Linked DNA regions of Homo sapiens. The protein of the gene in region 1 interacts with the protein of each later gene in a pairwise test. Each region holds a gene or a part of one and is shown in the gene's direction. Other genes may lie near its edges.

Region 1 (7,687 bases):
AGTTACTTTAATATTTTGGAAAGAATAGCAAGCGATATGAGCCATAGACCAGATTTTTTAATACAAATAAAAATTTCAGGAGTGTGTTCAAATTATTTATTTATAGTGGAGTTTCCTCAAATTTATTATTGTTTGGACTATTGTCTAGGGATTTGGATTTTTTTTTTTTTTTTTGAAATGGAGTCTCCCAGGCTGGAGTGTAGTGGCGTGATCTCGGCTCACTGCAACCTCTGCCTCCCGGGTTCAAGCGATTCTCCTTCCTCAGTCTCTCGAGTGGCTGGGACTACAGGCACCCGCCATCACGCCCGGCTAATTTTTGGTATTTTTAGTAGAGACAGGGTTTCACCGTGTTAGCCAGGATGGTCTCGATCTCCTGACCTTGTGATCTGCCTGCCTTGGCCTCCCAAAGTGCTAGGATTACAGGCGCGAGCCACCGTGCCTGGCTGGGGTTTGGATTTTTATTGTAAAGGATTTCCATTTCCTTGATAATAAATCATCTTTTAGATCCCTTTTAATTTTTAATTTTAATTTTTTGTAGAGATGGAGTCTCACTATGTTCCCCAAGCAGGTCTCAAATTCCTGAGCTCATGAGATCCTCCTGCCTTGACCTCTCAAAGTGCTGGGATTACACGTGTGAGCCACCATGCCTGGTCCATAGATCCTCTTGATTCGTTTGTTGGTTGATTGACTGACTGACTGACTGACAGGATCTCACTCTCACCCAGGCTGGAGTACAGTGGTGTGATCTTGGCTCTCTGCAGCCTCGGCCTTCTGAGCTCAAGCGATCATTCTGCCTCTGCCTCCCAAGTAGCTGGGACTACAGGCGTGTGCCACCATGCCTGGCTAATTTTTGTATTTTTTGTAGAGGTGGGATCTCACTATGTTGCCCAGGCTGGTCTCAGACTCTTGGGCTGAAGTGATCTGTCCGTCATGGCCTCCCAAAGTGCTGGGATTACAGGTGTGAGCTTCTGTGCCCAGCCATAGATCCCTTTTAATTAACACTTCTGCGACTCCAATTATTTAGGATCCTGGTTCACCGTATGTTATTCTAATCACTTTTTCTCTGTTGTTTGTATTTACCTTTTACTTCACTGTCAATATTTTATAAATCATATTAGAAAACTCAAGATTTAAATAAAATCAAAAAGTTTTAATACATTAATTTTAAACAGGAAAAATGTAAATAAAGCAAGTGCATATTTTGAAAGCAAAGTTTTGAGTTAAATTTAGGAAATAGGCATTTAGGCTAGTGCCAAGAAAACTTACACGTTCTTTCTGTGTGTAATTTGGAGGAAGGGATGGATTTTGTTCACAGTCATTATTTATTTTTTTTCAGGGCTTGTTAGGAGGCAAAATCATAATTTTTTTTTTACTAGCAGATTGTTTAAAGGCTAGGTTCTGAAATAAGACTGTGCAGGTTTGAAAACTAAGCATTACCAGTTATTGTAACCTTGGGCAAGCTACTTAACCACTCTGAATCTTAGTATTCCCATCTGTAAAATGGCTATAATAATAGTTTCTACGTTTTAAATTTATGGTATTAAATGAGTGAAAACCTAGAGAGCTCTTGGCATGGTACTTTGCACCTACCAAGTACTTAGTAAAACTTAATAATATTTTGATGGTACTGATGATACCCTGTTCTCTCTTCTAAACTGTGATATTGTATCTTTACCTGCTAGGCATTTTCTCTTTTAAAAAAAATTATTTCAGTAGTTTTGGGGGCGTACAAGTGGTTTTTTGTTACATGGATGAATTCTAATACATAGTGGTGAATTCTGAGATTTTAGTGCACCTGTCACTGGAATAGTGTACATTGTACCTAATATATAGTTTTTTATCCCTTGTCCCTTCTCCCACCCTTTCCCTTCTTAGTCTCTGAAGTCCATTTTATCACTCTGTATGCCTTTGCGTACTCATCTGCTGGGCATTTTCTCTTATACCTTCGTACATTACATTAAACACACATCTAAAATCAAACCCCTCATCCCACATGAAGACCACCTTTTTTGTTGTGCATATGTGTTTTAAGTGTAGATATGGAGTAAGCAGCCAGAATTTATTTCAGTTACCAAATATCGACAGACACTTTAAATATCTCAGAGTTAAAAGTTGCAAATTATGTTATTGGAATTCTGAGAACAATATTGATTGCTGCTTCATGTTACACTAACTTTACTTTTTAAACTTCTGAAACGATTTCATTTGACAGGGTGGACCTTAATTAAATATATGTCCACAAGGAGAGTTGACTCTAAATGTCCCACAGGATTTCAGAAACACAGTAAATACCTTTCTTCTATCTATTCTGATCTCCTTGCTCATAGGCTCTCACATGGAATCTTTGGGGCAGCTGTCAGTTCTTCATATTTTCCAGCCCCAATGCCCTTTTTATAAAATTGGGTAGCTGTTAATACATTGATACTTGGGCGCACAGAGTTGGCACTCAATAAGTAGCCGTTAAGTAAATTAATCAAAAGAATTGCAAGATACAAGATACCTGGTCCCTTCTATCAAAGAGTTTATAAATCAAGTATGAATGACAATACCTGAAACCACTTAAAAAAAAATCTATGTAAACACCGTTATATGTGACATGTCAGGATAAGAGGGAACAACTAATAAATTTTGTACACATTCAGTAAATGGAGAGAAAGGTTTTTGGAGATGAGGGGCTTGAGCCAGACCTTGTATGTGTGCTATTAGAAGCTTTCTGGGCTGGACACATTTAAAAACTGCCCTTTGATACTAATAGTATTAAAATTCTGTCTCCTTGGAAGCAGACTGCCTGTTGCTTTAGCTTTAAAAGAGATTTATATCCAAGCATTGCATTATGCAAGCCATAGAAAGACTGTTTTATGTGAAGATGCACTGATTGCACTTCCCTCTCTATATTTTATTGTAGTTAGTTGTTTAGAGCTGTCTCTGTGTAGAGTGTGAGGTCCTTGAGGGAAGGGACCTTCTTGGCCTCTTATCCCCTGCATACTTTGCATAGAGGAGGCACTTCATAAATGTTTGTTGAATAAATGCTACACTCCTAATGGGTAAGAATGTGTCATATTACTCTTTGTTTTCTTATGTGTACTGAAACAAATTGTTTCTTGAGATTGGTCCTTAGAATATTTATTCAGTTTTCACTGATTCTCTTGCTACAGGTTAGCTAACCATGCAGCAGGTGCTTGAGTTTCACCTTTCTCCAGTCCAGCAGAATTACATTTTGATGACCTCCATTTTGATACTTGTAGACCAGATCTAATCCGAAGATTAATCTTTAGGTAACAGATGGAGAGTGATAATGATAACTTCTGTGAAGACAAACCCATGCACACATTCTGTTGTCTGAATAATATTTAAATGAATCCTTCTGCTCCCAAGTCATCAACTTGCCCCTTAACACACATCCCTCTAGAGCACAAATCTGAGCTCCTTGTAGATCTTTGCCCTCTTCACTCTCCAGACCTTCCTAATTAATGTCTTCTCAGAATCGACCTTCTGTCTCTCTTAATCATTAGTTAAAAGAAAAAGTGGCAGATGTAGGACCTGGGGATACATTGCCACATCCCATTTCCTTCTCTATGAGCAGGATTTCCAATTTCCAAGCCTGATGGGATCTCCCAGCTGGAACAGGATCTACAGGTCTTTGATCTGGAAACTAAGACTAGAGAAGTCTTAAGAGATGACTGCTCAGGTGAGTAAGGCAGAATCAGATAGAATTAGTAGGGAAGTAAAGTTCAATTGTTGAGCCAAGTTGTAGCTGCTTTGGCACTCAGAATGAAGAGCTCTGTGTGTGTCCTAGCATGGAGAGTTCCTTCCTTTTCCCTTCAGTTAGGTTGACCCTTTCCATTTGTTTAGTATCCGTGCACATGTCGTACTAGACCCCAATCAAGTTGCTTATCTAAAATTCTTTCAGCTGTTTCCCTATTATTTCCTTACTCTGCTGAACATGTCCGCTGTTTTACCTCACTGCTCCTGTTTATGCCCTTAACTTCTGCTGTTGAGATTTTGTGCCTGTTTTTCAGAGTAAATAAACTTTTCTTGTCCTTGTAGATACTACATTGTTTAGTTTTCTCATCTGAGTTTTCTTTTCCTAAGCACAGGGTACAGATTACATTTGCATTTTCTATTTATATATTGTATCAGATGGAGAGACCAGAGAAGAGAACAAGCTGTTGATTCCTAAGCAGAAAATTTCGGAAGAAGTGCATTCATACAAAGTGAGAGTAGGAAGACTCAAACACGATATTACCCAAGTTCCTGAGACTAGAGAAGTGTATAAGTCTGAGGACAGATTAGAAAGACTTCAGGAAATTCTAAGGAAATTTCTGTACCTGGAGAGAGAGTTTAGGCAAATAACAATCAGCAAGGAAACCTTCACCAGTGAGAAGAACAATGAATGTCATGAACCCGAAAAAAGCTTCAGTCTGGACTCTACTATTGATGCAGATCAGAGAGTTCTTAGAATACAGAATACCGATGACAATGATAAGTATGACATGAGCTTCAACCAGAATTCAGCCTCTGGTAAACATGAACACTTAAATCTAACAGAGGATTTTCAGAGTAGTGAATGTAAGGAAAGCTTAATGGATCTCTCCCACCTTAATAAATGGGAGAGCATCCCTAACACTGAGAAATCCTATAAATGTGATGTATGTGGGAAAATTTTCCATCAGAGCTCAGCCCTTACTAGACATCAGAGAATCCATACTAGAGAGAAGCCCTACAAATGTAAAGAATGTGAAAAGTCTTTCAGTCAGAGCTCAAGTCTTAGTCGACATAAAAGAATACACACTAGAGAAAAACCTTACAAATGTGAAGCATCTGATAAATCCTGTGAAGCGTCTGATAAATCCTGTAGTCCAAGCTCAGGCATAATTCAGCATAAGAAAATTCACACCAGAGCCAAATCTTACAAATGTAGCAGTTGTGAAAGAGTCTTCAGTCGTAGTGTCCACCTTACTCAACATCAGAAAATTCACAAAGAGATGCCCTGTAAGTGTACTGTATGTGGCAGTGACTTCTGCCATACTTCATACCTACTTGAACATCAGAGGGTCCATCATGAAGAGAAAGCCTATGAGTATGATGAATATGGGTTGGCCTATATTAAACAACAAGGAATTCATTTCAGAGAAAAGCCCTATACGTGTAGTGAATGTGGAAAAGACTTCAGATTGAATTCACATCTTATTCAGCATCAAAGAATTCACACAGGAGAGAAAGCACATGAATGTAATGAATGTGGAAAAGCTTTCAGTCAAACCTCATGCCTTATTCAGCATCACAAAATGCATAGGAAAGAGAAATCGTATGAATGTAATGAGTATGAGGGCAGTTTCAGTCATAGCTCAGATCTTATCCTGCAACAAGAAGTCCTCACCAGACAGAAAGCCTTTGATTGTGATGTATGGGAAAAGAACTCCAGTCAGAGAGCACATCTAGTTCAACATCAGAGCATTCATACCAAAGAGAACTCATGAATGTAATGAAGATGGGAAGATATTTATCAAATTCAGGCTTCATTCAGCATCTGAGAGTTCACACCAGGGAGAAATCATGTATGTACTGCATGTGGTAAAGCCTTCAGTCATAGCTCAGCCATTGCTCAGCATCAGATAATTCACACCAGAGAGAAACCCTCTGAATGTGACGAATGAAGAAAAGGTATTAGTGTTAAACTCTTAATCGACTCCTGCAAATCTATACCAGTGAGAAATCTTACAAATGTATTGAATGTGGCAAATTTTTCATGCTATTAGTATTTTCATACCTTAGTCACATTTGGAGAATTCACATGGGAATAAAATTCCATTGCTGCAATGAATGTGAAAAAGCCATCAGTCAAAGAAACTACCTTGTTTAGTATCAAATTCACGCCATGCAAAAAGATTATAAATGTAATAAGCATGTATGTGTGTGAGGAGATTCAGTCATAACCCAACGCTCATTCAACATCAAAGAATTTATACCTAAGAGAACTTATTTGGGTGTAGTAAATGGCAGATCTTTCAATAGGAGTTTAACTAGTCTTTGTCATATCAGAATATCCATAGTAGACAAGAATTTGATGTAACGCAAATGGAAAAACTCGACACCACATTTCAGGCTTTACCCAACATCGAAATAATGGAGAGAAAATTGTTGATTATTTGTTTATGAAATTGTTAATACATAGTCCCAATCTTTTTCATTGCACAAAAATCTAGGGTTGACTTGGTAAATGCAGTGACATTTTCTCATGGAGTTCCTTTATTTAATATGTATTCTAAGTAGGTACGTTTATTTTTACTTTTTTATTATAATTTTGATATTAAAAAGAACAGAGATGGGGTCTTGCTTTGTTGCCCAGGCTGGTCTTGAACTCCTGGCCTCAAGCGATCCTCCCACCTGTCCTCCCAAAGTGCTGGGGTTACAGGCGTGTGTCACTGTGCTGGGCCTATTTTATTTATAGAACTCATTTAAGCTGTTTTTATTTTAATATGCCCTATAAACATTTTTATATTTTTTGAAATTGGTTCTTAGTGTTCACAACTTCCATAAGATACTGCTAATGCACCAGTATTAAAACACATCGACGTAAGTAGCTCATTTAGCTTTTTCTGCTGTTCTTGGCCCAAGTTCTTTCCAAAACCAACTCTTAGGCCTGCTCTTTACTAGGGATCTTATGTCGTATTGCTTTACAGCCACAACACTTGGATTCCTGTTGATTAACTTCTCCATTCTCTTAAGCACCTTTAGAAGATTTAGAAGTTTCCTAGTTTTAAGTGTTTCACCAGCAAGTATTCCATACCTACTTGATGTTGCTGGTCTGGTGTCTTATTTCCTAAAGTGAAGCATCTTTTTTTAAAAAAGAATTTGATTGACAATATATCCAGTCCAATATAAGTATGAAGGATTCTCTCTCCTGAGATTGTAGCAGGCAGCCAAACATTTTCAAATGATGCCCAAGGTTTTAGCTGTCTTGTGTGCATCCACAGTCTGCGAAGAAGACATGATAAGGACATCAGGGAGCCAACAAGACTCCTAATAGCCTCACTACATTCATCCAGTGCCTATTCTGCATGCCTAAGCTTAGAGTTCTTTTATATACCTCTACGGCCAGCAAAATGCTCAGGTCTGCTCTTGGTAGGGTAAACATAAAGAAGATACACAGGCCGGGCATGGTGGCTCACACCTGTAATCCCAGCACTTTGGGAGGCTGAGGCGGATGGATCACGAGGTCAGGCAGTCGAGACCATCCTGGCCAACATGGTGAAACCCCGTCTCTACTAAAAATACAAAAGTTAGCCGGGTGTGGTGGCACGCGCCTGTAATCCCAGCTACTCAGGAGGCTGAGGCAGGAGAACTGCTTGAACCTGGGAGGCGGAGGTTGCAGTGAGCCGAGATTGCACCACTGCACTCCAGCCTGGGCGACAGAGCAGGACTCTCTCTCAAAAAAACACAAAAAAACAAAAACAAAAAACCATACACACACACACACACACACAAATCAGCATCATAAGGGAATGTAGCCTTCCAACAGAGATGATGCTGTTCGTATGTTAATCTCAGAGACAGTATTTCAAGAGAGTGGCAGGTCTGTTCCTGGTAAAATTTTAACCATTAGGATTGCAGATAAATGTTTGAATTCTGCTCCTCTCTCATCAATCCAGGACAGTATTTGAAGTGTGAGGGCTTTGTGTATAGT
Region 2 (8,451 bases), on another chromosome or scaffold:
TTTTAAAAATTTATGGGATACATACAGCATTGGATTAGTAGAAAATATACAGCAAATGATTATATTAGAAAATAAGATTTACATCTTTATCACCTTCATTTATCTCTTCATCAATCACTTAAGTTTTCATTTCAACTAAATAGAAAAAGAACAATTAAAATTCAAAGTAAGGAGAAAGAAATAAATAATAAACATAATATCAGAAATCAATGAATAGAAAACGAGGAAATTAATGAAGCTAAAATTTGATTCTTTGAAAGGATTCATAAAGTACTTCTATTTAGTTATTTTTTAGTTGGCAAATAATAATTGTGTATATGTATATTTGTGGGGTACAATGTGGTGTTTTGATTTATGTATGCATTGTGGAAAGATAAATCAAGCTAAGTAACATATCCATCACCTAAGCACCTGATCATTGTTTTATGGTGAGAACATCAAAAATCTACTCTTTCAGCAACCTTGAAATAAACAATACATTAGTATTAATCTGATGAACATCAAGCCAGATTGATGGGGGAAGCATGAGATAAAACACAAATTACCAATATCTGGAATTAAATAGTGAGAATTTATAGACACTGCAGATACTAAAATTCATGATAAGGATTATTATGAACAACTTTATTTCAGTATTTTTGCAACTTAGGTGAAGTGAACAAACTCCTTGAAAAATGCAACTTTCACACAAAATGAAATAGAACAACTGAATAGCATTGTGAGGTTTCTATAAGTAGAGGTAAGCAATTTGATGTAGAGGTCAGCAAATATACATATATTTGCGTGTGTGTGTGCATGTGTGTGTGTGTGTGTGTGTGTGTGTGTGTGTGTGTGTGTGTGTTTGAAATGGAGTCTCACTCTCACCCAAGCTGGAGTGCAATGGTGTGATCTCGGCTCACCGCAACATCTGCCTTCCAGGTTTCAGCAATTCTCATGCCTCAGCCTCCCGAAAAGCTAGGACTACAGGTGTTCGCCACTATGCCCAACTAATTTTTGTATTTTTAGTAGAGACAAGCCTTCAGCATATTAGCCAGGCTGGTCTCAACCTCCTGCCCTTAAGTGATCTGCCTGCCTGGGCCTCCCAAAGTGCTGGGATTACAGGCTTGAGCCACCGCGCCCAGACATTTTTTTTCCTAGTTAAAAACAAAACACAACTTTTTCACATGGGAGACTCCTGGAAGAGGTGGCCTCACTGGACTCCATCAAACATTTAAGGAATAAATAACACTAATCTTACAGAATTTCATGAAATAAAGAGGAAACATTTCCCAATTTAATTTATGAACAGTATTACTCCATTCTCACACTGTTATAAAGAAATATCTGAGACTGGATAATTTATAAAGGAAGGAGGTGTAATTGAGTCCCAGTTCCACATGGCTGGGGAGGCCTCAGGAAACTTACAATAATGGTGGAAGGGGAAGCAGGCACTTCTTACATGGGGGCAGGTGAGAGAGAGCGTGGGAAGGAGGAACTGTCACACACTTACAAAACCATTAGATTTCCTGAGAACGAACTCACTATCACAAGAACAGTATACGGGAAACTGCCCCCATGATCCAATCATCCAGGTCCCTCCCCTAACACGTGGGGATTTGGGGTTTATAATTTGAGATGAAGTTTGGGTGGGGACGCAGAGCTAAGTCATATTGTGAACCCAGTATGTAACTTGATACCAAAACCTAACAAGATCATTAGAAGAAAAGAAATTTACAGGAAATATTTCTCAAGAACATAGATGGGGGTGGAAATCCATTTGCTAATCCTATCAACTAACTGAATAAAACAATTTACATAAAGGATAATGTAGAGTGACCAAGTTATTCAATATGATTGATCATGTTGTAGGGTCACCCAGATCATCCCTCCACTTCCTTCTTTGCCTTGGGAAACAGATTACCTTGACCACCCTGTGGCCCAGCCAGCTGTGTGTTTCCCCTGCAGCTTGAACCCGAGCTGACCCTTGAACATTCCCAGGCACTGTTAAAAGTTATTTAGGTTGTTGCCCAAAACAGTGAAAATCAACCAAGTTGCTGCACGTGGATACTAGCTCTGGCCCTGAGCCAAATTTCTTAAGGCCTCATGTAAACTCTTATAACCTGTCGCACAAATGTTAAAAGCAACAAGACAACTGCTATAGCAGAGATGCGTGCAAAGTGCTCTGGGAGGAGCCACATCTCCACATGAGGCAGTTGAACGACGTTTCAGCTGAGTCTTGACATGTGAGTTCATCCAGGAAACGAATAGCAGAAGAGCATTTGACCAAGAAAATAGTACCTACGAAGCTTGAAGGATGGCTGGAGCTTAGGGTTTGTGAGACAGAACATCAGGAAGTGAGCCCAGAAAGGTAAATTGGCACCAGGTTAGGGAAGGTCATATTTGCCAAGGTAGAAAGTTTGCATTCCATAAGTGGAAGGCGACAAAAAGCAGGTTTGTATTTTAGGAAAATGATTCTGGCAGCCTAGGTGGATGTTGTAAGGTAAGAGCATAGTATTATGCAAAATAAACTACCGTGTTGTTGTCGGTTTTTTTTTTTATCATGGCCTTTCATGATGTCTATTTCTTTTTCTCTATTCCCAATGTTCCTTTCTTCTGGTGATGATATGCTATAGAAATTGTCACGGGTGATTAGCAACTATCTGGGGCTGGTGGCATGGGGGTAAGAAGAATTTATCAAGATAGTTGTAGGTAAAGAAAGGCAGATATATTAGAGAACGTATGAAAATACGTTGCAAGGAAGCAATGGGCAGCACAGCAGAGAAGGGGCTGTCTGCAAGGAGACAAAGGCGTGCTGGAGATTTTACAGGATGGTGCTTGTACTGTGTGCTGAAGAGGGTTTGTGTGGTACTGATAACACTAAGGTTGCAGTGAGCTAAGTTACATTTTTCTATCAGCTGAAGGTCTGGTGATAGCTGGGTGCAGGAATATTGTGCAGGAGGGCTATGTGTCCTGGACCATGAAGAAGGTGAGTCTTATACATTACCTGCTTTCTTTCTTTGTTTTTTGTTTTTTGGTTTTTTTTATTTATTTATCACATTGTGCAGGTTAGTTATATATGTATACATGTGCCATACTGGTGCGCTGCACCCACTAACTTGCTTTCCTCTGGTCCTGCCAGCCTGACTTCTTTTCCCTAAGGAGGACTCCACAGAAATGAATTCTGGGTGATTTCTATATTCTACGATGGAGACTATAGCTATAGATCATTATACAACACTACCTAATTAATCAAGACCAAAATAAATAGTCCTACCTGCAGGACAATAACCAGTAACAAATAATTTACAATTAGAAATTAGTTCCAGACAGAAGGAAATATTTCTTATTTTACCTGCACTTACATGACTGCATTTTAGCTAACTGGAGCCTGTGATGGACAACCAAAACATGGGTTTTCTTCACAGATATTTTTCTTTTGACTCATTAGGTTACTGTGAAAAGATAATTTTCTTTCAGAGATTTGTAATTTTTCAGAAGTGTTTTTGAATCCTTGAACTCATATTTGTTGCAGAGCAGCGTCAATATACCATGAGACACTCTAAGAACTTTTTGCATAAGTGTTGATGTGTAAAGAGAATCACTAAATTCAAACCCAGCTCTGCCCAGGGAGTAATAAATCCTAAGAGACTATTTTAACTCACTTACATATGTTCTTCTGGTTTGGTTTGGTTTGGTTTCTACTATCAGGTACCTAGGAAGTAGCACTCAAGATTAGGAGAAAAAATAAGTTTATTCTGGATCAAAAATTTTTTAACTTTTTCAGATTAATCTGTTTTTTTCCTATAATGTTCTTAAAAATTCTAGAGACAATTTTCTCTATGCACCTTTGAAAATGAAATAAATGTAACGACTAAAACCAAGCAAAGTGAAATAGATTATCCTTCACAATGGAGGTGAAATCCAAGAGATAATTCAAAAAAATTACGTATCTCAAGTTCCTGTCTGTCAGATTTGGCACCAGAGATTTCATCCAGTGGAATTACTGATTTGGAACCTAAATAGAATTTTATTTTCCAAGTTCCAGTATTTTCAATTTTCATGAAATTCAGGCCTTCATAAATAAATAAATAGGAGAAAACAGGCTCTACATCTCAGAAGAAAAGATTCCTGTGGGTTCCTTGCCCCTACTCTGAAGTATAATCATTAAGGAATTCCCAAGGGACTAAAAGGTTATAACTTAGAATTTATATTTCACTCTTATTAGGAATACAGGTAAAATAGTATAACTTATCTAACAATAAGCAATGAGAAATGTGGAGAAGGCAAGTTTCAGGAAATCAAAGATCATAATTCCAGCTCTAACCAATTTATATTTTAGCCTGCAGAAAAACAAGTTATTCCTATCAGTTATGTAAAGTGACTTTTCCATTTGTACGCAGGTAGACATGGTTTGCACACACACACACACTTTAAACCCAATATATAGCTCACTCCTCCAGTCTTTATCAGCACATGCTCTGAGATCACAAAAAGCATTGAAAGATTACTAATCACACTGACCATTTTTATGGTGGTGGCACAAACAAATAATTGTCATTTTGTGAGCTGTAATACTAATTTTAAAAGGGGACACAAGCAATCAATCCACAGAATCAAAATCTGTGGACATATTATTTTCCTGATTTGTAATGAGTTGTATCTATAATTATTCATTGGCCAAATTTTCTCTTTCTTTTATTATTCTGTCAAAAGCACAATGCTTCCTATGACGATTTTCTGAAATAAGTGTTTTGTCTTGCACATGGAAATGGTGTGGGTCCTGCTTTGGTAACCTAAAGTTATCCCTATTTTATGAGGCATAAAACTCTTCCTCAGTAAATAAACAACTCTAATGAGATGTTTGTACGAAAACTGGCACCATCAGTGATAAAGAAAACATCCGGTGCAGTCTGTAAACACCCATTTTGGGGGGTTATAAAACTCTCAGGAGAGGAGAGTTTTGGAGTCAAGGCAACTGAAGTTTTGCAGCCAGTCTCTGTCTTTGCTTCTGGAAGGATGACTTCTGACTGCTCCTCCACACACTGCTCTCCTGAGTCCTGTGGCACGGCTTCCGGTTGTGCACCTGCCTCAAGCTGCTCCGTGGAAACAGCTTGTCTCCCCGGTACCTGTGCTACATCCCGATGTCAGACTCCAAGCTTCCTATCCAGGTCTCGCGGGCTGACTGGTTGCCTCCTGCCATGCTACTTTACTGGGAGTTGTAATAGTCCCTGCTTGGTGGGGAACTGTGCCTGGTGTGAGGATGGGGTGTTCACTAGCAATGAGAAGGAGACGATGCAGTTCCTGAATGACAGACTCGCCAGCTATCTGGAGAAGGTGCGCAGCCTGGAGGAGACCAACGCAGAGCTGGAATCCAGGATCCAAGAACAATGTGAACAGGATATCCCAATGGTGTGCCCGGATTATCAGCGTTACTTCAACACCATTGAAGATCTCCAACAAAAGGTCTGTGTCCTGTTGCCCTAGTGCTCCACCTTCCTGATCTATGGTTTGCTTTATCTTTCTACTAGAAGGGGCTGTTTTACAGAAGGAAACCAAGGGAAAGGAAAATTCTAAGAGTTAGTGATACATAGGGGAGAGCACCGGACTGAAAGTCAGAAAACCTCAGCATCAGCCCCAGAGCTACCCCTGATTACTGAGTGACTATAATAAAGTAACTTGCCTGTAGACTTTTCCTTCATCATCTATAGAATGCAGAAAAACTGTATTATATCCAAAATCGCTTTTGTACGTGACACTGAACATTTACATTATCTGAACACAGATCATGAAATGCCATCTTTTTAACTACCTAGTAATCATTTTCTTCTCTCCATGAATTTCTATTATTATGGGAGAGGATATACTCATAATACAAACTACTGATGGAGAAAACATTAATGGTGTTCAACTGCCTGAGAATGTTGCAAAATGTCTTATGTTATTAAAAAACTAAACCTTTTTATTTCATTATTTTGTTTCTAAATTGGCTCTGCTTTTTTTCTTCATGAAGTGACAAGGTTAATAAAAAAAAGCAGGCTGAGGGTGATTTTATACTTTCTTATAAAGACTTTCAAAAGATAGCTAATGGCATAGCTGTTGGATAGAAGTTTACTTAGGTTTCTCTCAAAGAATCATTTATCACATAATGACTTGCTTCCCAGATCTTATGCACGAAAGCAGAGAATTCTAGACTTGCTGTACAGCTTGACAACTGCAAACTGGCCACTGATGACTTTAAGTCAAAGTAAGTTTAATTTAATTTTATTTTATTTATTTATTTTGAGATGGAGTTTCACTCTTGTCACCCAGGCTAGAGCTCAATGGTGCTATCTCAGCTCACTGCAACCTCTGCCTCCTGGGTTCAAGTGGTTCTCCTGCCTCAGCCTCCTGAGTAGCCGGGATTACAGGCAGGCGTGCACCGCCACACCTAGCTAATTTTTGTATTTTTAGTAGAGACAGGGTTTCACCATGTGGGCCAGGTTGGTCTCGAACTCCTGACCTCAGGTGATCTGCCCGCCTTGGCCTCCCAAAGTGCTGGGATTACAGGCATGAGCCACCACGCCCGGCTTTAATTTTAATTTGAAAATAACTTATGGCTCTCTCTCTCTCAATCTCTCTCTCTCACACACACACACACACACAAATATTCTCTATATAATATTTTAAAGTTAAGAATGTTTTAAAAGCTTGAATTTATCATTACTTAGGAATTAAGAGAAATTATGCACATGGCTTCCTGAAGTCCGTGTGTCGATCCTCCATGTATCCCCACACTTTGCACAGCGTTCAGCAAAGTAAGCGTTGGATTTCTCTTTTGCTGTGAAAGGTACGAGAGTGAACTGTCCCTTCGCCAGCTGTTAGAGGCTGACATCAGCAGCCTGCATGGGATCCTGGAGGAACTGACCCTGTGCAAATCTGATCTGGAGGCCCATGTGGAGTCTCTGAAGGAAGATCTCCTTTGCCTTAAGAAAAACCATGAAGAGGTAAGGAAAGTGGCAACTCCGCTGAAGGACTCCGAGAGTAACGTACTTACATTGACAGATGATCTGTTGATGTTTGTAAATCGAATTTGGGCAGATGTTGTTTAAGCTGGAATAAAACTACTTGAGGCAGGGCCAGGCATGGTGGCTCACACCTGTAATCCAAGCACTTTGGGAGGCTGAGGCAGGAGGATCACAAGGTCAGGAGTTCGAGACCAGCCTGACCAATATGATGAAACCTCATCTCTACTAAAAATACAAAAATTAGCTGGGCATGGTGGCAGGCGCCTGTAGTCCTAGCTACTCGGGAGGCTGAGGCAGGAGAATCACTTGAACTCAGGAGGCGGAGGTTGCAGTGAGCCGAGATCTTACCACTGCACTCCAGCCTGGGTGACAGGGCGAGACTCCATCTCAAAAAACAAACAAACAAACAAACAAACAAAAACTACTCGAGGCATTATTACTATTCAACCTGATCATTCCAGTGTGTCTCTGATTTAAGGTGTGAAATAACCCCTAGACAGCGCCAGAGGAAGGAATCAAACTCTTCTCCTGCCCTTGCCTTTGTGGAGGAGGTAACTTCACAAATGGCTTCCTTTGGAGGCTTTATGCCACCCCTAGCTCCAGTCCACAGGGTATGAAAATCAGGCTGAGGAACAGACTGTGAAGTCCATTTCAAAAAAGGGATAAAGACTGTGCACTATCTGGACCAGTGTTTTTAAATATTCCGCATTTATAAACTTCTAAAAATCATAAAATATACAGCCACTGATATATTGATAAAGCTAGAAAATGAAAAGCTGAATGATGTAACAAAGTACATTTGCTCTTTGAACGTTTGTTGATGACAATCATAGCTAACATTTATTGACACCTTACTATGTGTCATAATTAACTTTTATAAGTTAATTATGTGTAGATTGACTCTTCTAGATCTCACAATAACTTTCTGGAAAAATGTCCAATTATTATGTCCATTTTACAGACGAAGAAACTGAGGCCCTTCTAAGTGGTGAAAAGAGATTCAGCCCAGGCAATCTGAATCAAAATCTCACACTTTTACCCACTGCTCCAAAAAACAGAAGTAGAATGCCATTGGATGTCAAATGGATTTTTCCCCACCATTCTGTGACATTCTTTACACCATCCCACTTTCAGGAAGTCAACTTGCTTCGTGAACAGCTTGGCGACCGCCTCAGTGTGGAGCTGGACACTGCCCCCACCCTTGACCTCAACAGGGTCCTGGATGAGATGCGCTGTCAGTGTGAAACGGTGCTTGCCAACAATCGCAGAGAAGCTGAAGAATGGTTGGCTGTTCAGGTCAGTACCCAGATTGAAAAAATGTCAGGCTTACAGACTTCTGCCTTTTTTGAATTCTCTAATGGTGTCTGTGTTTCAGACAGAAGAGCTGAATCAGCAGCAACTGTCCAGCGCGGAGCAGCTGCAGGGCTGCCAGATGGAGATCTTGGAACTGAAACGCACAGCCAGTGCT
Region 3 (7,687 bases), on another chromosome or scaffold:
GAGGCCTGCTGGCCTAGAATCCCCCTCAGGGCCTGGAAAGGCTGTTAGGGGCCTAAGCATGGAGAACTGAGCAAAACAGAGGACCTTGCTTTCTTGGGGTGTCCAGGACATGGGATTTCCCCTGAGCTCCCCACGAGACACCATCCCAGGGGGCTCTTCCTGCCTGGCCATCCAGGGGCTGGGTGCCCTGGGCCGGATGTGTCTGGTGGGACTCACTGGCTTCCCTCCCTCTGTTTGCTTCCCAGAGACCTGTGACTGTGAGGGCTACCTCAAAGGGCACTATGTGGGTAAGTAGCTCCCCCTGACACCCACATGCACGACCTGCCCCACCCAAGGCCCCAGAGTTAGGGAGAGGTCAAAGCAGGGTGATCTGAGCCCCAGGAGTCCTTCTGGAGCAGTGGAGCCTATGGGACCCCCATCTCTCCTCAGTTCTCTCAACCCAAGCAGGAGCTGAGCCTGCCCAGGCATTGGGCCCCCACCCAGCTTTTACCCAGCTGTGGGGCACACTGCCCTGGCGGGAAAGGCACACACACCCCTACATTAATACCAATTCTATTATCACCATCATTGCAATTGGAGTTTATTCAATATTAACACCACTACCACGCAGTGAGGGGTGTTTGCGGCTCTCCAGAGCCCCTTTTCACTTGTTTTGGTCAGTTTTTTCAAAGGTCTTAGAGATAGGCAAAAAGTTTTTTTTGTTTTTTGGTTATTTTTTAGAGACAGGGTTTTGCCCTGTCTCTCACGCTGGAGTGCAGTAGTGTGTGACATTGCAGCTTGCAGCAGCCTCAATGTCCTAGGCTCAAACAATCCTCCCACCTCAGCCTCCTGAGTAGCTGGGACTGCAGGCATCTGACACCATGCCCAGCTGATTAAAAAAATTTTTTTTGTAGAGATGGGGTCTCGCTATGTTGCCCAGCTGGTTTCAAGCTCCTGGCTTCAAGCAATCCTCCTTTCTAAAAAGTTTTTAAACTTTTTTTAAACTTATTTTTTGAGATATGGTCTTGCTCTGTTACCCACACTGGAGTGCAGTGGTGTGATCACAAATCGCTGCAGCCTCAGCCTCCCAGGCTCAAGCGATTCTTCCCTCTCAGCCTCCCTAGTAGCTGGGACTACAGGTGCATGCCACTATACCTGGCTAATTTTTGTATTTTTTGTAGAGACAGGGTTTCACCATGTTGCCCAGCTGGTCTTGAACTCCTGAGATCAAGTGATCTGCCTGCCTTGGCCTACCAAAGTGCTGGGATACAGGCATGAGCCACTGCACCCAGCCCCTTAACTTTTGTCCTGAAGTAATTTCAAACTTACTGAAAAGGTGTAAGAATTATACAAAGAACTCTCATATACTCCACACCCAGATTCACCAGTTGCTCCTTTGCCATGTTTGCTCAATTTCCTTTCCCACATCTCTGAATTTTTTTTTCCTGAGTCATATGAGACTTAGTTGTAGACATCGTGTCCCTTTAACCCTAAATCTCTCAGCATGTATTTCCTAAGGCCAAGGACTTTCTCAGGGCAGTGATCAAATTCTGAGAATTTAAAATGTATCCAAATCTGTTATATGCTGTTATTTAAATGTTAACAATTGTCCCCATCATGTCCTTTATGACATTTTCCCTTGGTCCAGGATCTAATCTAGGACCACACATAGTAGTTGTAGATTCATATCTTCATTTCACAGGTAAGGAAATTGAGGCTCAGAGAGATGAAGGGACTTGTCCAAGGTCAGTCACATGCCAAGTAAAACAGTGACCTTAAGCCCTAGTTTGTGAATGCAGGGGTCACCCTTTCATCTTATTATTGTATTTCCTGAACAACCTCTTCCAGTAGCAGGAGGAGGTTGGGAGAAGTCAGTGGGACTCAGTCCCATCTCCAGGTCTGGCCAGGTGGGAAAAGTCTCTACTGGGAGATCCTGGGACAACTGGGACAAATGCCATGGTGTCCCTCTGCCCCTCCTCCCAAGCTGGTCTTCGGAGGAGCTTCCGGCTGGGCTGTAGGGAGAGACTGGGTGGCTCGCAGGAAGGAAAGATGTCCTCCGGAGCTGAGTCTCCGGAGCTGCTGACTTACGAAGAGGTGGCCAGGTACCAACACCAGCCCGGAGAGCGGCCCCGCCTGGTGGTTCTGATCGGTAGGTGCCATCCTGGGTTTCCAGGAAGTGATCTGGTTTCCTCCCTGGAGCAGGTGGGGAGGGAGCTCAGCAGGGACCCTGGTCAGCCTTCTTCTTGTTTCCCAGGGTCTCTGGGAGCCCGACTGCACGAGCTGAAGCAAAAGGTGGTGGCTGAGAACCCACAGCACTTTGGCGTCGCTGTTCCACGTAAGAGGGCCCATGTGGGAGTGTGTGTTTGTCTGCACACACACAAATATTCCATGGAGACTTAACTCCCCAGATCCATCCAAATCCTTACTTTGGGTTTAAAGGATCACCAGGCACTGCCTGCTATTGGCAAATTGTGGGACAAAGGCATGATGGGAAGAAATCCACTCCCAGTGGTCCTCTGAGACCCTCTGAGGCAGAAGTTGGAGGACCACTTGCTTGGTTCCTGCCTGGGGTGGGAGATGAGTCCAGAGCACATTGTAGGCAAAGTGGCAGCCTCAACCTGACACCACGGGGCCCCCACAGTAGGGGGCATTCCTCCTCATCACAGTGAATTTTGACTCCTGTGGCCGCTGCCCTCTGCTTGGATGAGAGGGCAGGTCAGAGAAGCCACAGAGCCCTGTGAGTGGTATTTCTCGGCACTCCCTTATAGCCAGATTCCAGTTTGTCAGGGTAGCTGGGTACATTCCTGGGTGATGCCTCCCCTGCCAATTCCTGGGGCTTACTGCTGCCAGGGGCACCCTGGGATGTCAAGCTCCAGTGGGCAGAGGATCCTGGTTCTGAATGTGATAAGGAGGATGAGGAGGAGGAGAATGAAGGTGCCAGGTAATGCACCAAGAGCTTTTATGTGTAGTGCCCTGCGTCAGCCCTCCCAGTACCCCTGAGAAGAGAGATTGTTATCATCTTGTGTGGCAGAGGAAGACAGTGAGGGTCAGAGAGGTTAAGTAACTTGTCCAATGTCACACAGTTGGTAAGTGGTGGAGCCAGGATTCATACCCAGGCAGCCTGCCCCAGTCATGTTCTTAACGAGGATGCACAATGGCCTCTCACCTGCCGCCTCCCACTTCGTGCCCTTGGCTGCCCCTTTTCTTTCTGGGACTCACTCTCAGTCCCCCTGGCCTCAGAGGGATGCAGTGTGAATGCCTGGTGGCTACTGAGAGGGGTGCTGTGGGGGCCCTAATGGGGCCTCCTCAGAGTGTTCTGGGGCAGAGCAACCATGAAGCCTTGCTTTGATCACACCGCTCTCCCTGGGCCCCTGGGCCCAGCGTCTAGTCTGTGGGTTGTCAGAGCTGTCTTCCACAGCCCAATCTGAAGTGGCAGGGATGTGGGGGAGGTGGTGGCCCTGGGGAGGCCATCCTGGCAGCACACCTGTGATGGACCTGGAGGGCTTCAGGGAGCCACGGCCTTCCAAGTTTCAGGTGGACTGAAACAGGACATGCAGAGGTTGCTCACACACTGATCGTTCAGAACCCCTTGGATCCACCCCCTGGAGAAGAGGTACCTGGATGGTCAGGCCCACCTGCTTCTAGGCACTCCACAGATAGGAGACTTTCCTCCTTTGTTTTAGAAACTGGGGGAGTCAGGGAAGCCTTCCCAGAGGCAGTGACTTTTATGCTGGGTTCTGAAGAGTAAATAGGAGTTTTCCAGGCAGAAGAGAAAGGAATAGTTCTCTTTACAGAGGAAACAACATGTGCAAAGGGACGGAGCAGTGTTGGGGACCGGGGAGATTAGTGTGGATGGTGTGCTGGAAAATGGAGCTGAGAGGTTGGGCAGATCACGCAGGTCTCAGATACTCAGCTAGGGTGTTTAGAATGTAACCCATAGATAAATACAAGTTTTTAAGCAGGGGGATGACATGGTTGGAAAAGTGACCCTAGCACCTCTACCGGAGGTTGGACTAAGATGCCACAGAAAGAACACAGGGCATACCCTGGGTGGTTCCCATGGGCCAGAAGACACAGTGCCTCAAGATCCCATTTTATCTTTTGGAAAATACTGTGTGTGTGGCTTTGTGTGTGCCCTTGTTCTGCAGAAGACCTGATTTTCCTCAGAAGTGTGCATCCCAATTCTGTTATGGAAATCAATGAGAAAACACCATGTGTTTCAACATTTTTGTTTGAGAGCCAGCCTTGCTGAAACACATCCGATCTATATAGGGACGGTCTGTCTTCCTGTCTCCTTTTTCTGGAGATGAGAACTAATTGACTAAAGAATTAAAAGCATACATCAGGGTCAAGTGTATGTGTGGCTCCTTTGCTCTCAAAAAATAAAAAACAATGAAGAATTAAAAGTTAGGACTAGGGGTCCCTTAAGTGATTCTTTAAAAGCCACAGCATATGCTGGGCGCGGTGGCTCATGTCTGTAATCCCAGCACTTTGGGAGGCTGAGGCGGGTGGATCACCTGAGGTCGGGAGTTCGAGACCAGCCTGACCAACATGGAGAAACCCCATCTCTACTAAAAATACAAAATTAGCCGGGTGTGGTGGTACATGCCTGTAATTCCAGCTACTCGGGAGGCTGAGGCAGGAGAATCGCTTGAACCGAGAAGGCAGAGGTTGCAGTGAGCCGAAATCATGCCATTGCGCTGTAGCCTGGGGAACGAGCAAAACTCCGTCTCAAAACAAAAAACAAAACAAAACAAACAAAAAAAAAACACAGCATCAGGGAGTCAGTTAGCAGAGTGGTTAAGGGTATAAGCTGGGCATTTGGCAGAGAGACCGATTCTGGCTGTGCTCTCTACTGGTTGTGGGTCACTGTGCACAGTGCTGAACCTCTCCGTGCCTCAGTTTTCTCAGCTGCAAAAGGAAAAGCCTCCTTTTGCCTACATCAAAGAGTTGTTGTGTGAATCAGTGATACGCCTGCCTGGAAAGGCACAGTGCCTGATACAGGGACATGCAATGAGGTGGAAGTGCCTGGTTTAGACACAGCAGCAGTGAACTCCCAAATGAGTGCCTAAGCCTGCTGCTGTCCCTGCGTGCTGTGATGTGACATCTCTTTGCCCAGCTTTCCTTCTTTCTTTAAAAGATACCACCAGGCCCCGAAAGAGCCATGAGAAGGAAGGAGTGGAATATCACTTTGTGTCTAAGCAAGCATTTGAGGCCGACTTACATCACAACAAGTACGTTGCTTGATGGGCCAGTTGGCCCTCCAGGCAGTTGTGTGTTTTTGTATCTGTATTCCACTAGAGCTCCTGGGAGGACTCCCGGAAAGGATGGGGGAAGCGGGAGAGAAGTCATGTTGGGAGGTCCCCTTTGCTTTGCTAATTTAGGAAAGCTGAGGAACTAAAGGCCTTTTCCCCTTTGGTGGTGTTTTAGGTTCCTGGAACATGGTGAATATAAGGAAAATCTGTATGGAACCAGCCTGGAGGCCATTCAGGCTGTTATGGCCAAAAACAAAGTTTGTTTGGTGGATGTGGAGCCAGAAGTGAGTTGCTGGGCCTGCTGGCCATTTCTGGTTAACGGAATTTATAACTAGGGGATTGTACATTTTACACAACACTTAACCTCAGTCTAAGGAATTTTTAGTCTAGAACACTGGCTGTTCAATTTCTTTGGGTCTTCCTTTGAGAATCAAATGAAAGCCTTGTACCCCAAAACATGCCCCTCTATCCACAAATGCTGCATTAATTGTAGGGAGCTTGTGGACACTCTGGTGGCCCACAGACCCAGGCTAGTAACTCCTGCGTGGAACAGATCATGCAATAGTTGGTGGCGCTGACTGGCCATTGCAATGTGCCAGAGAATTAGATGTCAGTACCCAGGTGAAACTGGGGCTGAGCTCTCGGTGCCAGGCCTCCCCCTCCCCAACCAGGGCAGGTGGAGTCAGTGGCTTAGAGAACCACTCAGGGAGGCAGTGAGGAGAGCAGTTTAAAGGGGAAAAAGAGGGAGGGAGACACGGCCCTGGGAAGTGCTTCAAAAACATTTCCACTCCTGCACACCCAGCATGCTGTGGACTCAGCAGGGGCTTAACCATCTTTTTAACCTTGTCTTTTAGAAAAACTTCCAAGCTTTGAACTCAATCTGGGGATTTTTTTTCCCCTCTATAGAAACAGATCTCTGATTTTATGCTATAAACTGTAGGCTTTATTTTAAAGAAGTTTGCTTGAAATATATTCCAAAAAGCACGTTATGCCTATAAAGGAAAACACTCATTTGGACTTACAGGGAGTTAGTGATCAAAATTAAAAGTCTGAGTTTCAAAATTTTCTTTGAAAAGTGATTTTATTGATCACTTTATTGATCAAGGGTGCAGATAATGCATATAGCAGTTTAATACTAGTGTTTCCAAGTGGAGCCCTTACTTCTAGATAAAATGCATTAATCAAGAGTACAATTTCTTTTTCTTTTTTTTTGAGACAGATTCTTGCTCTGTCACCCAGGCTGGAGTGCAGTGGTGCGATCTTGGTTCACCGCAAGCTCCGCCTCCCGGGTTCACGCCATTCTCTTGCCTCAGCCTCCCGAGTAGCTGGGACTACAGGTGCCCGCCACCACGCCTGGCTAATTTTTTGTATTTTTAGTAGAGACGGGGTTTCACCATGTTAGCCAGGATGGTCTTGATCTCCTGACCTCGTGATCCACCCGGCTCGGCCTCCCAAAGTGCTGGGATTACAGGTGTGAGCCACCGCACCTGGCCCAAGAGTGCAGTTTCTACAGTCTACAGTTTTAAATGATCTGTTCAGTAATCTCATTTGCTTTGCAAACCTTTTCTTCTTTGAATACCAAGAGGAGATGTAATAGCACAAAGTTTGTAATAATGTAGTCCGATTGATGACATTTGACTAAATAGATACACACTGACTCCTGCTTCCTCACCCATCAGAAATGGAAGGTGGAGAGGAGCCTGAGAAGGTTAATTATAGCCGGAGGAGTCAGAGCTAAGAGAGACAGCAACTGTCTCTGAGCTGAGGCTTAGGAACCTTCTGTTGGCAGTGAGTGTGACTTCAGGGCCCCGCTGAGTTCAACGTCAAAGTGAAGGATGAGAAAAGGAGCAGTTGGTCTGCCCAGTTGAAGTCCATTGTCATGGGACCCATGTAACCAGGACCTTTGCTGTTGAGGTTATGGTATTGAAGCACACGATTATTGAGCTTTCAAAAGTCTATTTCACAACAAAACACTTCAAAAGTATATAATATTCCTGAACTTTCTTTCTCAGGCACTGAAACAACTGAGGACCTCAGAATTTAAACCCTATATTATATTTGTAAAGCCTGCAATTCAGGAAAAAAGAAAAACGCCACCTATGTCCCCAGCTTGTGAGGACACAGCAGCCCCATTTGTAAGTTTAAAGTTGATTGTTTCTTTTCTGAAGGCCTAAGGGAGGCTGTTACAGGAACGCTTCTAGCTGCATAAGGGTGCTTGCAGCTGAAGAGGGATGCGGGACACACCTTCTACATGTGATTGTCTTTCCATTTTGCCTATTGAAAAACTTAAGAGAAGATGATTACATGGCCAGAAGGCTCAAGGTGAACAGCTGGAAGTGCCTCCCAAACCAGGCAGGTGGCTTTGCCTGGGCTCACGCCCCTCCACTCCCTCACATAAGCGCCCTCCCGCAAAATGTGACACCTGTCAGGGACCTCATCTGAGTGTGACAGAC

Evidence for each region. The genes of interacting proteins can lie anywhere in the genome.
Region 2: the proteins of ZNF655 (region 1) and KRT40 interact in binary tests that used the Homo sapiens proteins (3 or more experiments, as listed by UniProt).
Region 3: the proteins of ZNF655 (region 1) and MPP3 interact in binary tests that used the Homo sapiens proteins (3 or more experiments, as listed by UniProt).

Annotation. Positions count from the first base shown.
Region 1 is NC_000007.14:99,568,105-99,575,791, forward strand, and holds part of ZNF655 (zinc finger protein 655), read left to right. Parts: intron 1-3,583; coding exon of another isoform or gene 3,584-3,688; intron 3,689-4,140; coding exon 4,141-5,480; 3' UTR 5,481-7,687. UniProt on the Homo sapiens protein: Probable transcription factor.
Region 2 is NC_000017.11:40,980,818-40,989,268, reverse strand, and holds the start of KRT40 (keratin, type I cytoskeletal 40), read left to right. Parts: upstream 1-4,942; 5' UTR 4,943-4,995; coding exon 4,996-5,442; exon of another isoform or gene 5,443-6,140; coding exon 6,141-6,223; exon of another isoform or gene 6,224-6,805; coding exon 6,806-6,962; intron 6,963-7,289; exon of another isoform or gene 7,290-7,944; coding exon of another isoform or gene 7,945-7,968; exon of another isoform or gene 7,969-8,117; coding exon 8,118-8,279; exon of another isoform or gene 8,280-8,358; coding exon 8,359-8,451. UniProt on the Homo sapiens protein: May play a role in late hair differentiation.
Region 3 is NC_000017.11:43,808,638-43,816,324, reverse strand, and holds part of MPP3 (MAGUK p55 subfamily member 3), read left to right. Parts: intron 1-245; coding exon 246-287; exon of another isoform or gene 288-745; intron 746-1,681; exon of another isoform or gene 1,682-1,963; coding exon 1,964-2,128; intron 2,129-2,233; coding exon 2,234-2,314; intron 2,315-5,119; coding exon 5,120-5,213; intron 5,214-5,409; coding exon 5,410-5,518; intron 5,519-7,246; coding exon 7,247-7,369; intron 7,370-7,687. UniProt on the Homo sapiens protein: Participates in cell spreading through the phosphoinositide-3-kinase (PI3K) pathway by connecting CADM1 to DLG1 and the regulatory subunit of phosphoinositide-3-kinase (PI3K). Stabilizes HTR2C at the plasma membrane and prevents its desensitization.